Linked DNA regions of Homo sapiens. The protein of the gene in region 1 purifies or fractionates together with the protein of each later gene. This does not show direct contact. Each region holds a gene or a part of one and is shown in the gene's direction. Other genes may lie near its edges.

Region 1 (3,696 bases):
TTTTGTTTTGTTTTGTTTTGTTTTTGCTATTGACTTACAACAACATGGATAAACCTGGAGGACTTTATACTAAGTGAAATCAACCAGGCACAAAAAGAAAAATACTGTATGATCTCACTTATATGTGGAATCCAAAATTATTGAACTCATAGAAGCAGTGAGTAGAATGGTGGTTGCCAAAGGCTGGGGGAGTGGGAGAAGTGAGGAGATACTAGTCAAACAGTACAAACTTACAGTTATAAGACAAGTTCTGGGGACATAATATACAGCATAGATAGTGATGGATATTGTATTAGTTTGTTTTCATGCTGCTAATGAAGACATACCCAAGATTGGGTAACTTATAAAGGAAAGAGGTTTAATTGACTCACAGTTCCACATGGCTGGTGAGGCCTCACCATCATGGCAGAAGGTGAATGAGGAACAAAGTCACATCTTACATGGCAGCATGCAAGATAGCATGTACAGGGGAACTCCCCTTTATAAAACCATCAGATCTCATGAGACTTACTATCATGAAAACAGCATGGCAAAGACCCACCCCCATGATTCAATTACCTCCCACTGGGTCCCTCCCATGACATGTGGGAATTATGGGAGTTACAATTCAAGATGAGATTTGGGTGGGGACACAGCCCAAACTATGTCAGATGTGTTATTAAATTTGGTTGTAATAATTATTTATTATACAACGTGTACATATACCAAATCATCATGTTGTACACTTTGAATACATACAGTCTTTATTTGTCAATTAATATTTTAAAATAAAAAGTTGCTTATAAAAAATAATTCAGTTGAGAGATGATAGTGGCATCTATCAGGGTAGAAGCAGTGGTGAACATGAGAAATGGAAGGATACTGAATATATTTTTAAGGTAGAACTTATATAATTTTAAAAACTAACAGGATGTTTCATGTGAGAGAAAGAAAGGAGTGATGGATTAATGCACAGTTTTTGACCTAAACAACTAAGAGAAGGTGGACTTGGCATCAACTACTATTTGAAGATTGTAGAAGGGGCAAGTTTATGGGGAAGGATCAGAAGTTTAGTTTTGGACACATTTGGGTTTGAAATATTTATTTGATATACAAGTGAAGATGACAAGTAGGAAGCTGGATATGTAAGTCTGGAGTCTTGGAGAGAGGCTTGGGCTGATCATATGAATTTGGAATTCATCAGAACATTGGTGGTATTTAAGATCACAGACTGGAAGACTCACTGGGAATTGAGTATAGATTGAGAGAAATGATCTGAGCCCAGGGCTGCTCCATTATTAAGAGATAAGTGAGAAGGGGAGGAGTCAGTAAAGGAGATTGAGAAAGAGCAACTGGTGACTAAGAAGTGGGTGTGGGGTCTTGGAACCAAGGAAGAAAGTGTATCAAGGAGGAAAATGATAATCAACAGTGTCAAACGCTGCCCATAGGTCAGGTAAGATCAGGGTTGAGAAATGGCCATTGTATTTATTAATATGAAAGTCATTGAAGACCTTAATTAATTAATATGAAAGTCAAAGACAGCCCAGGTGAAGTGGTGGCAATGATGCTTTGAGTGAAGTGGGTTAAGAGAGAATGAAGAGGAGGAAAATTAAAGACAGCACAGTTAACTGTTTTGAAGGGTTTTGCTTTAAAGGGAGCAAAGAAATGATATGGCTGGGGATGGGAGTTGTGGAGTTGAAAAAAGATTTGCTTTTTTAAGATGGAAGAATAATAGTGGGTTTTATTCCTTGTTGTTTGTTACTATCTGTGTATTGAGGTGGGTTTTAACCTCTCTTTTACTATTTTAAATTTTGGGTGCTTTTTATGACAGTTTCCTATGGAGGTAAGATGAATTAATGTAGAATGGTCTTATGTTGCCTAGTTCTAAGGATGTTTCTCTTTTATCTTCTTTTACGTCTTTAAATGTATTATCTTTAAGAAATATTAAATGGAGTATTAAGAGAGGTATAGAAATGGATTTTCTGACAAAATAATAAAATATGCCATAGTAGGAAAAAGTTTCCAGAAGACAAGAGTTTGCCAGTCATCTTGTTGCTGACTGTGGCAGTCCATTCCCTCACTTGAAAGGATCTTAAAGAACTAAAGAAAAATTAAAAAAAAAAATTGTGCGGGAACTAGCCTAATGCTTCTCAACCAGGGGCAATTTTACAGTGTCTGGAGATATTTTGATTGTCATGACTGGAGTGGCGCTGGTGGCATCCAGTGGGTAGAGACCAGGGATGCTACTAACATTCTATAATGTACCTCCTCACAACAAAAGATTACCTAGTGCAAATTGTCAATGTTGCCAAGGCTGAGAAGCTATGGGCTAGCCCTATCATCTTTCCTTTCTTCCAGAGAGAAGCTAGGAAGCTGCTTCTGAAAAAGGGATCCGGAAGCAGGAGCTTTCCCTATCCCATTGTTCTGTGTTTAGATGAGACACAGCTTTTAAATAAATGATTAGGGTTCAAAATAAAGACATTTCTTTTTTGCCTTTGCTTTCTCTTTACCCCCTTCTGTGGATTCCCATAGTATAATCGAATTTTATAACTTTTGGTAGTTTCCCATTAGGGCCCATGACAGAGGAACATTAAAGTCATGGTGAAAAATTCCTCATTCAGTTGAGAAACCACAATTTCACATTGCTGATTTCTATTCTGCATCTGTCTGACAACTTAGTGAAGGAAAGGATGAAGAATAGGGTGATTTGTTAAGCTCTGACTCTACAAATCACTATAGCTTTTTAATATGAAAGGAGGGGTGGCCTCTCAGGCATCTTTTTTTGTAGCTTTTTTGGGCCATTAGGATTTTGGATGAGAGCTGCATTGTTTATTTATTTATTTTTATTTTTTCTCCACCTTCTCATTCTTAATAACTCTACCTTCAATATGTGCCTTATCTTTTAAGAAAGGCTCTGAAGAAACTCAGAACAGGTCCTAAGTGCTTGTTGAATGAAAATTTTCTTGTAGAATCAAAAATTTAAAACCCAATTTTAAAAGAAGCAATTTTAAATTCATAGTTTTTAAAAACTTAAAAGGCAGGTTTTTAAATGTAAATTTGCTAGTTCTCTGGATTGTCTTTCAGTGTTCAAAGTCAAAGACAAAAATCAGGCTTTCAAATTGACATTTTAGGAAGCATCCCCCTTGAGAACTGGAACAAGACAAGGATGCCCACTCTTCCCACTCCTGTTGAACACAGTACCGGAAGTGCAAGCCAGAGCAATCAGGCAAGAGAAAGAAAGAAAAGGCATCCAAATAGGAAAAGAAGAAGTCAAACTATCTCTCCTAGGAATCCCTAAAGACTGCCAAAGACTTTTGGAACTGAAAAATGACTTCAGTAAAGTGTCAGGATACAAAATCAATGTACAAAAATCAGTACCATATCTTTACACCAATAATGTTCAAGCTGAGAGCCAAATGAAGAACATAGCCTAATTTACAGTACACACACACATACACACACACCCCTTGGTTTCACCTCTAACCAAGGAAGTAAAAGGTCTCTACAAAGAAAACTACAAAACGCTGCTGAAATAAATCATAGATGACAGAAACAAATGGAAAAACATTCCATGATCATGGATTGGAAGAATAATAAAATGGTCAAACTCCCCAAAGCAATCTACAGATTCAATGCTATTTCTATGAAGCTACCAATGGCATTTTTCACAGAATCAGAAAAAACTATTCTAAAATTCATATGGAAGTAATAAAGTAA
Region 2 (3,696 bases), on another chromosome or scaffold:
GGTGATGTCACCTGAGGTCGGTAGTTCAAAATCAGCCTGACCAATATGGTGAAACCCCGTATCTATTAAAAATACAAAAAAATAAGCTGGGCGTCGTGGTGTGCACCTATAGTCCCATCTACTCAGGAGCCTGAAACGAGAATTGCTTGAATCTGGGAGGCAAAGGTTGCACCACTGCACTCCAGCCTGGGCAAGACAGAGCGAGACTCCATCTCAAAAAAAAAAAAAAATTAAAAAAAGAGTGGTACAACTCACTGAAGATAAAATCTGGGCAGAACTTTTCCAAAAATAAATTAGTTAAATAATATAGAGCATTTTGCAACAGTAGTCATTCCCAAGAGACTTCCAGCCTGGGGGACGCAGCCAGTCTACCAACTTATAGGGGCCCTGAGCCAGGAAATCCATTTCAAAGCCTACTGAAACAGCCCCTTCCTTCTCTCTTCCTCCTCTCCTTTCTTCACTCACTGTCCCTTTCCTTCTGTCCCGCTTCTCCACTGTCCATAGTCGGAATTGCCTTCCTTCCCCTACTTTCCCTTTTGCTTTATTTTCTTGATTAAGGATTTATTTTTCCAAGACCTAGTCTTGCTTTCACAGAATCTCCAGTCACACTGACTTTGGGGGCAGAGAGGACACTGCTCCTTCCCCCACCTCCACCCTGTGTGTGGCATCAGCAATTTAGACATAATGAGATGGTAAGCTTGACAGCTGTCTTTGAAATGTATGCCCATTATAAAGTCAAATGGTGAGACATGCATGTGGGCATGTTTTAAACAACCATTCCTAACAGTTTCATATAATGGATTCACTCATGTTATCTCATTATCTCTGGGCCTCTTTTATAAGATCAGAGAGGTTAACAATGTGGCCAGTGTATTCATTTGCCCATTGGCTGATTAAAAATGTATATGTATTTGGCCAAGGTCTCCCAGCTTGAAAGTGGCAAAATTGGGACTTGAACTTCAGTTCTTGGCACTGTGTTTCCTGCCATATTTCTTAGGTGAAGGGACATTTGGCCTTTGACTAAACTAGAAGCCAAATCTAAATAACTAAAGAACCCAAACAGAGTAAGATCAACTGCTTTACTGGGCTTACCAAGTGTCATTTAGGGAATTTTCCCATCCTTTGGTGTTAGAGCCAAATTTCCTCATCTTTGGGGGAAATTTTGGAACGTGACTTCTCACTTCCCAACAGAGGGAATTGCAAAAGTCAGGTGTTTTCAACAAGAACATTGAATCGATTGAAGACTTTGGATAAATGCTAAGTGGAGACCTGTGGTTCCATGCCATAAAGCATGGAATATACCATTTTGACCTGAAAAATATCGAAGCCAGTTGTTAACACTTTGCTGCTTTGTCCTGTAAAATCCTTTAGAAGAAAAAAACCAAAACCTGAGTAGTACCTGTAACTAATTTTAACTAGGTCTTAAGTCAGCAGTTCTCAAAGTGTGATCTCCAGACTAGCAGCACCAGGAACACAGGAACTTGCTAAAAATGCAAATTCTCAGTCTCCACCCCAGACCTAGTAAATTAGAAACTCTGAGAGTTAAACCCAAAAATCTTGTTTTAACAAGTCCTTCAGATAATTCTGATGCTGAGGTTTGAGAATCACTGATTTAAACCATCAAGAGAAAACTCTATTTGCCCACTCAAATGGGCAGTAGTATAACTAGAAGCCTGGAATCTCTGCATGTATGTGTCCCATATGCTCTGCAAAAAGGCACGTATTCTTAACTGGTGTTTTGTGATTCGATTGGTTGTGCTTAGAATTTGCTTGGTTCTCTTGCAAAATATCCTGAAGTTGGTTAAAGAAAGGATTGATCGTGTCCAGTAAAATAATGCGTCTTGTCAGTAGTTGACAAGGAGCCACTGTTGAGACCTTGCCGGATACAAAGCCAACTTCAAGCCTACTCTCTTTCCCAACATGTCAGCCTTAACCATCCCCTCTCCTATTTCCAGCAGAAATCTTTTCTCTTTCAACGTGTAATACCAATTCTGCCCCAAAGGAAAGAGAAGGCAAAATGAGCAGAATTTGTGGTTTTGTCCGTTCACTAGCGCTAATGCAGTGAAGGAGGGATGAAAACGCTTTAGGAGATGGTATGATTGGGAAGGATATTATGCCATGTACCATTTCCCTTCTTCCCCCAGTGCCAGCCGCTGATGAGTGGTTTCACATTCCTGTACTGGGTGGCACACAACCTAGTCTGTTTTCACTGCTAGCAAGGATTCACAGTGCCAGTCTGTTATGTACACCCAGAGAACAGGGGTGACAGAGACACCCTCCTGCCTTTTAGAAGAGATATTTGATCCATATTTTTCCTGCCTGGAATCGTGGAGACTCCTGTCTGGTCTGGCTGCAGCCTGACCCTCCGGATGCCTTCAGTTGTGGGTGTTTGACACATCAGGAAAGTCACAAGTCTGACTCCTGTGATTTGAGGAGACAGCTGGGAAACCTCCCTGCTGTGGTCCCAGCCAGCATAGGAGCATGACCCTACATCCAGGGATGGGCTTAGTCCAAATCAGAAATGCCTGTGTTCTCTCAGGCCTTAGCCTCCAGCTTCCCGACACTGAGACCTAGGGCATGAGAGCTTCCCTGCTGGAGTCCTACCTTATTCTCACCAAGTCACCCCCGACTGACCCTTTGGGCCTTTGGCAATAGTATAAATGGGTGTTTTAAACTTCTCCATGGGCAACCACCCTGCTCTCAGAAGATGCCCTCCATCCTCTCCAGGGTCTCAGAAGGCTTGGCTCTTCCAGGTGCCAATAAAAATGAACAGTGGGAGCTGGTGGCAGACCAGCAAAGGGCCGCCTCACTGTCCCTGCTGGACTGCTACAGCGTGGGTAAGGCCCCCATTCGTGGATCTCAGGCCTCAGAGGCCGAGGGTTCCAAGCACCCCAGCGAGGCTGCCCCCGAGCCTGGGAAGGCTGGCTGCATCCGGGTGGTCTCTGCCTAGCTGCTCCTAAGCTCCTGCCCTCTTCCTTCCAGATCACACGGCAGCAATATCAGAACGCACTCACTGCCTGCCACATGGACAGCTCACCTCAGTCCCCTGACATGGAGGCCTTCACAGACGGGGACTCCACTAAGGCCCCCACAACCCGGGGCACACCCCAGACCCCTAAGGATGACCCCGCCATCACGCTCCTCAACAACAGGAACAGCCTGCCGTGTAAGTCAGCTGGGCAGACGGGCAGGCTGGGCTGGTGTGGGGTGAGGATGACCCTGCCTTCCTCTTCTAGCCCTTCCCAGGGCTCACACCACCTGAGCCCTGGGTCTTCTCCAAAGCAGAGAGGTGATGCACTCACTGTCCTCCCCAGGCAGCCGCTCAGACGGGCTGAGAAGCCCCAGCGAGGTAGTGTACCTGAGGATGGAGGAGCTGGCCTTCACCCAGGAAGAAATGACTGACTTCGAGGAGCACAGCACACAGCAGCTCACGCTGTCTCCTGCAGCCGTTCCCACGAGAGCAGGTCAGGGAGGCCAGCTGGGCCCAGTGCAGCAAGGGAGATCATTGCCTTTGGGCACTGGGATGGCCCAGGGAAAGCTGGCTGAGGGGAGCCCTGGGACCGCAGCCCGTGCGTTAAACCTCCGACCTCCTTACACAGCCAGGGAAAGGAAACATTTACTGAGCATCTACCATGCATCAGGCCCTGTCTGATTCATTCTCCTAGGAAAACTGTGTAGGGCAGTATTAGGAGTTGG
Region 3 (3,573 bases), on another chromosome or scaffold:
TTTGTGCTTTTTGCCCCTTTTATGTGATGTCTATGGCAGCATGACAGTGATATATCAGCATATACTTACGAGCGCACTTTGATGATGGAACAAAGGTCCCAGATGCTCCGGCACATGCGGCTATCCAAAACAGAGCGAGACAGAGAGGTGAGACATTACTGCATCAATCCAATCCGTGCTCTCTAAAGTCTGTCACTGAAAGGGATGATACTGGGCTGGGCATGGTGGCTCACGCCTGTAATCCCAGCACTTTTGGAGGCCGAGGCGGGTGGATCAAGAGGTCAGGAGTTCAAGACCAGCCTGGCCAAGATGGTGAAACCCCATCTGTACTAAAGTACGAAAATTAGCCGGGCATGGTGGCACATGCCTGTAATCCCAGCTACTCAGGAGGCTGAGGCAGAGAAGTGCTTAAACCCAGGAGGCGGAGGTTGCAGTGAGCCAAGATCACGCCACTGCACTCCAGCCTGCGTGACAGAGGAAGACTCTGTCTCAAACCAAAAAAAAAAGGGATGATACTATATTGTTTTCAAGGATGACAAATTCCTTCTCACTCTGTCAGTTATTCCACTATAACCCATTACTGCTTCAAAATAACCAAAGATGAAGCATAAGAGAAAATTTGGTAGAATAACTTGTGTTGGACCTTCTTCCTCAGGCACAATTGGTGAAAGACCGAAACTCAATGCTACGATTGACCAGCATTGGCTCTGATGAGGACGAAGAGACAGAAACCTATCAGGAGAAGGTGCACATGACTTGGACAAAAGACAAGTACATGGCATCCCGGGGACAAAAAGCGAAGTCAATGGAAGGATTCCAGGACCTGCTTAACATGCGTCCGTAAGTTTTCCCACTCCCAAGTTTATCATAAAATTACCTAATCAGTGGCACAAATGTGACTTTGCCTGGACACACAGGATGGAGTCTGTTCATTTCACCCTGAATCTAGCCACCTCATTATTGTTTGCCTGTTCATACTGGCTCCCAATGAACACTGTACACAAGCTAACCATCCCCTCTATCCACATAGTTCACCTCCATACTGTGTTCTTACTATAAAATAAGCCAACAGAGAATGAGAAAACCCAGATATTAATATCATAAAGAAACCATTTTAGCCTGGGCACAGTGGCTCACGCCTGTAATCCCAGCACTTTGGGAGGCAGAGGCGGGTGGATCACCTGAGGTCAGGAGTTCGAGACCAGCCTGCCCAACATGGTGAAACCCTGTTTTTACTAAAAATACAAAAAAAATTAGCCGGGTATGGTGGTGGGGGCCTGTAATCCCAGCTACTCGGGAGGCTGAGGCAGGAGAATCACTTGAACCTGGGAGGCGGAGGTTGCTGTGAGCTGAGATTGTACCATTGCACTCCAGCCTGGGTGACATGAGCGAAACTCCCTCTCAAAAAAAAAAAAAAAAAAAATCATTTTATCAGATTATCCATAGTCAAGTGAAAAAGCTCAGGATCTCAAGTTTTTAACGTTGACTTTATGGCTAGTTGTCTTTTTACCTTAACAACCTTTATTTCTTCCCCACTCAGGGACCAGTCCAATGTGAGGCGGATGCATACAGCAGTGAAACTCAACGAGGTTATAGTTAACAAGTCCCATGAAGCAAAGCTGGTTTTATTGAATATGCCAGGGCCACCCCGAAACCCTGAGGGTGATGAAAACTGTATCCTTTCCAAGAGTGGGGCTTCCAGTAGGGAAAATCTCCTTAACCTCTTTCTGAGATAACTAGGTAACAATAAAAGTCATTGTCTATGCCCCACTTTCCCTCTTTAAGGAAGGGAGACTTAAAAGTCCTAGGCAAGGATTTTTACAAAGTTATAAGATTAAACTCTTTTAGGGGAGTTGGGGCAAATATAATTCAGTTCTAGTTTTAGGTGGTGTATTTGCAACATGACATCTAATATTCAGTGTATAAAACCCTTCCTGACAATCCTACAGACAGCATACCCACATCCTTTCGCCTTTTTAGGTTCTACCCGCTTTGCAAAGCCTTTCTTTTGGATAGAGTTAGGGGAGAAGCTGAGATAGAACCTCCTTTAACTGAGGGGAAAAAAGAGATAGGGATTCTTCCTCATACCTTCATCCCAGGACTCCTGGGATACGGGAAACCCTTCAGCATTGACACATAAATTAGCTTATTCCCACCAGTACCATTAAGAAAGAAGAGGTTTAGGCCAGGTGTGGTGGCTCATGCCTGTAATCCCAGCACTTTGGGAGGCTAAGGCAGGTGGATCACCTGAGGTCAGGAGTTCGAGACCAGCCTGGCCAACATGGTGAAACCCCGTCTCCACTAAAAATAGAAAAGTTAGCTGGGTGTGGTAGCAGGTGCCTGTAATCCCAGCTACTCGGGAGGCTGAGGCAGGAGAATCACTTGAACCAGGAGGTGGAGGTTGCAGTGAGCCAAGATCGCACCATTGCACTCCAGCCTGGGCAACAAGAGGAAATTCTGTCTCAAAAAAAAAAGAAAGAAAAGAAAAAGGTTTAAAAAGAAAAAGACAAACCGAACTGGCAGAAAAATCTGACTTGAGCAGCTTCACTTAGAAATTACTTGGGTTCTCTCTAGGAATCTTGTTAGCTGCCCTATTGTGGCTTTTCTTCTTCTTTCATCATTTTTATCTTATTTAGAGTAACACTTCTAGGTTTTCCCATTTTTTAAATACACAAATGGGAGTCTGGTATTATGTATGCAAAAGGACTGGATCTCTGGTTACTTCACAGGGTTAAATTCAATCCAAAGTTCAGACTTTTCTGAATATATAATAATTAAGCAGCTAATTTTGTAGCTCTATGATCAGATAACCTCAGATTATGATGATGCCAGGTTTTAAGTTTGTGCTCTTCTTTTGCCTGTCTCCTTGACAAGTTTTGAAGACATGGAGTTCCTAGAGGTGCTTACCGAGGGACTAGAGCGAGTCCTACTTGTCCGGGGTGGTGGCAGTGAAGTGATCACCATTTATTCATAACCTACTCTGAATGACCGTGCTTGACCTGTTTTCTTAAAAGGCCTACGTCCTCCATGGAAGTGCCAGCTCATTACTACCACTCCCACTCAACTAGAAGCCTGTGTTCTGTACACATCATACTGAACTCTTGATGAGCTGAGCCTCAAGTACCTGTGTAAAAGAGCTCCCATCTGATCTGCAGTCATTACAGAAAAAGCAAATATTCCCTCAACATCAGAACAATGCTCAAGTCTTTCAAGCCACGTCTGAGCAGTCAAAGGCAAATTAGAATTAACAAGCTGAGCCAATAAATGAATTGGTAAAAGGGATGCTAGAAATTCAACTGAAGAAAAAAAGCAAGTCAAGTACGTATTCAGCATTAAAGATGAATCTCAGAAGTCATGGTTCAATGTTGACACTGTGAGGATAACAACTAGAGACAGCTTCATCTTACTAAAGAATTTATGGTCAAGTATATTTGGACCTATTATCCTCGGCAAGCCAAGATGCAAACATTTTTTAGCTATATTTCTTTAGTATACCCACTGCTGTAATTTTATATTAGGATACTAACTTGAAACATGGCTGCAGCCTCTACTTCTTCAAAAACATCCCCCCAA

What was found.
Region 2: the proteins of SLC44A5 (region 1) and CNNM1 purify together in Homo sapiens (affinity purification with mass spectrometry; one large-scale study listed by BioGRID and IntAct). This does not show direct contact.
Region 3: the proteins of SLC44A5 (region 1) and SLC12A6 purify together in Homo sapiens (affinity purification with mass spectrometry; one large-scale study listed by BioGRID and IntAct). This does not show direct contact.

The regions. Positions count from the first base shown.
Region 1 is NC_000001.11:75,604,504-75,608,199, reverse strand, and holds part of SLC44A5 (choline transporter-like protein 5), read left to right. Parts: intron 1-3,696.
Region 2 is NC_000010.11:99,384,838-99,388,533, forward strand, and holds part of CNNM1 (metal transporter CNNM1), read left to right. Parts: intron 1-2,982; coding exon 2,983-3,166; intron 3,167-3,314; coding exon 3,315-3,464; intron 3,465-3,696. UniProt on the Homo sapiens protein: Probable metal transporter.
Region 3 is NC_000015.10:34,233,282-34,236,854, reverse strand, and holds part of SLC12A6 (solute carrier family 12 member 6), read left to right. Parts: intron 1-39; coding exon 40-147; intron 148-655; coding exon 656-840; intron 841-1,540; coding exon 1,541-1,674; intron 1,675-2,882; coding exon 2,883-2,974; 3' UTR 2,975-3,573.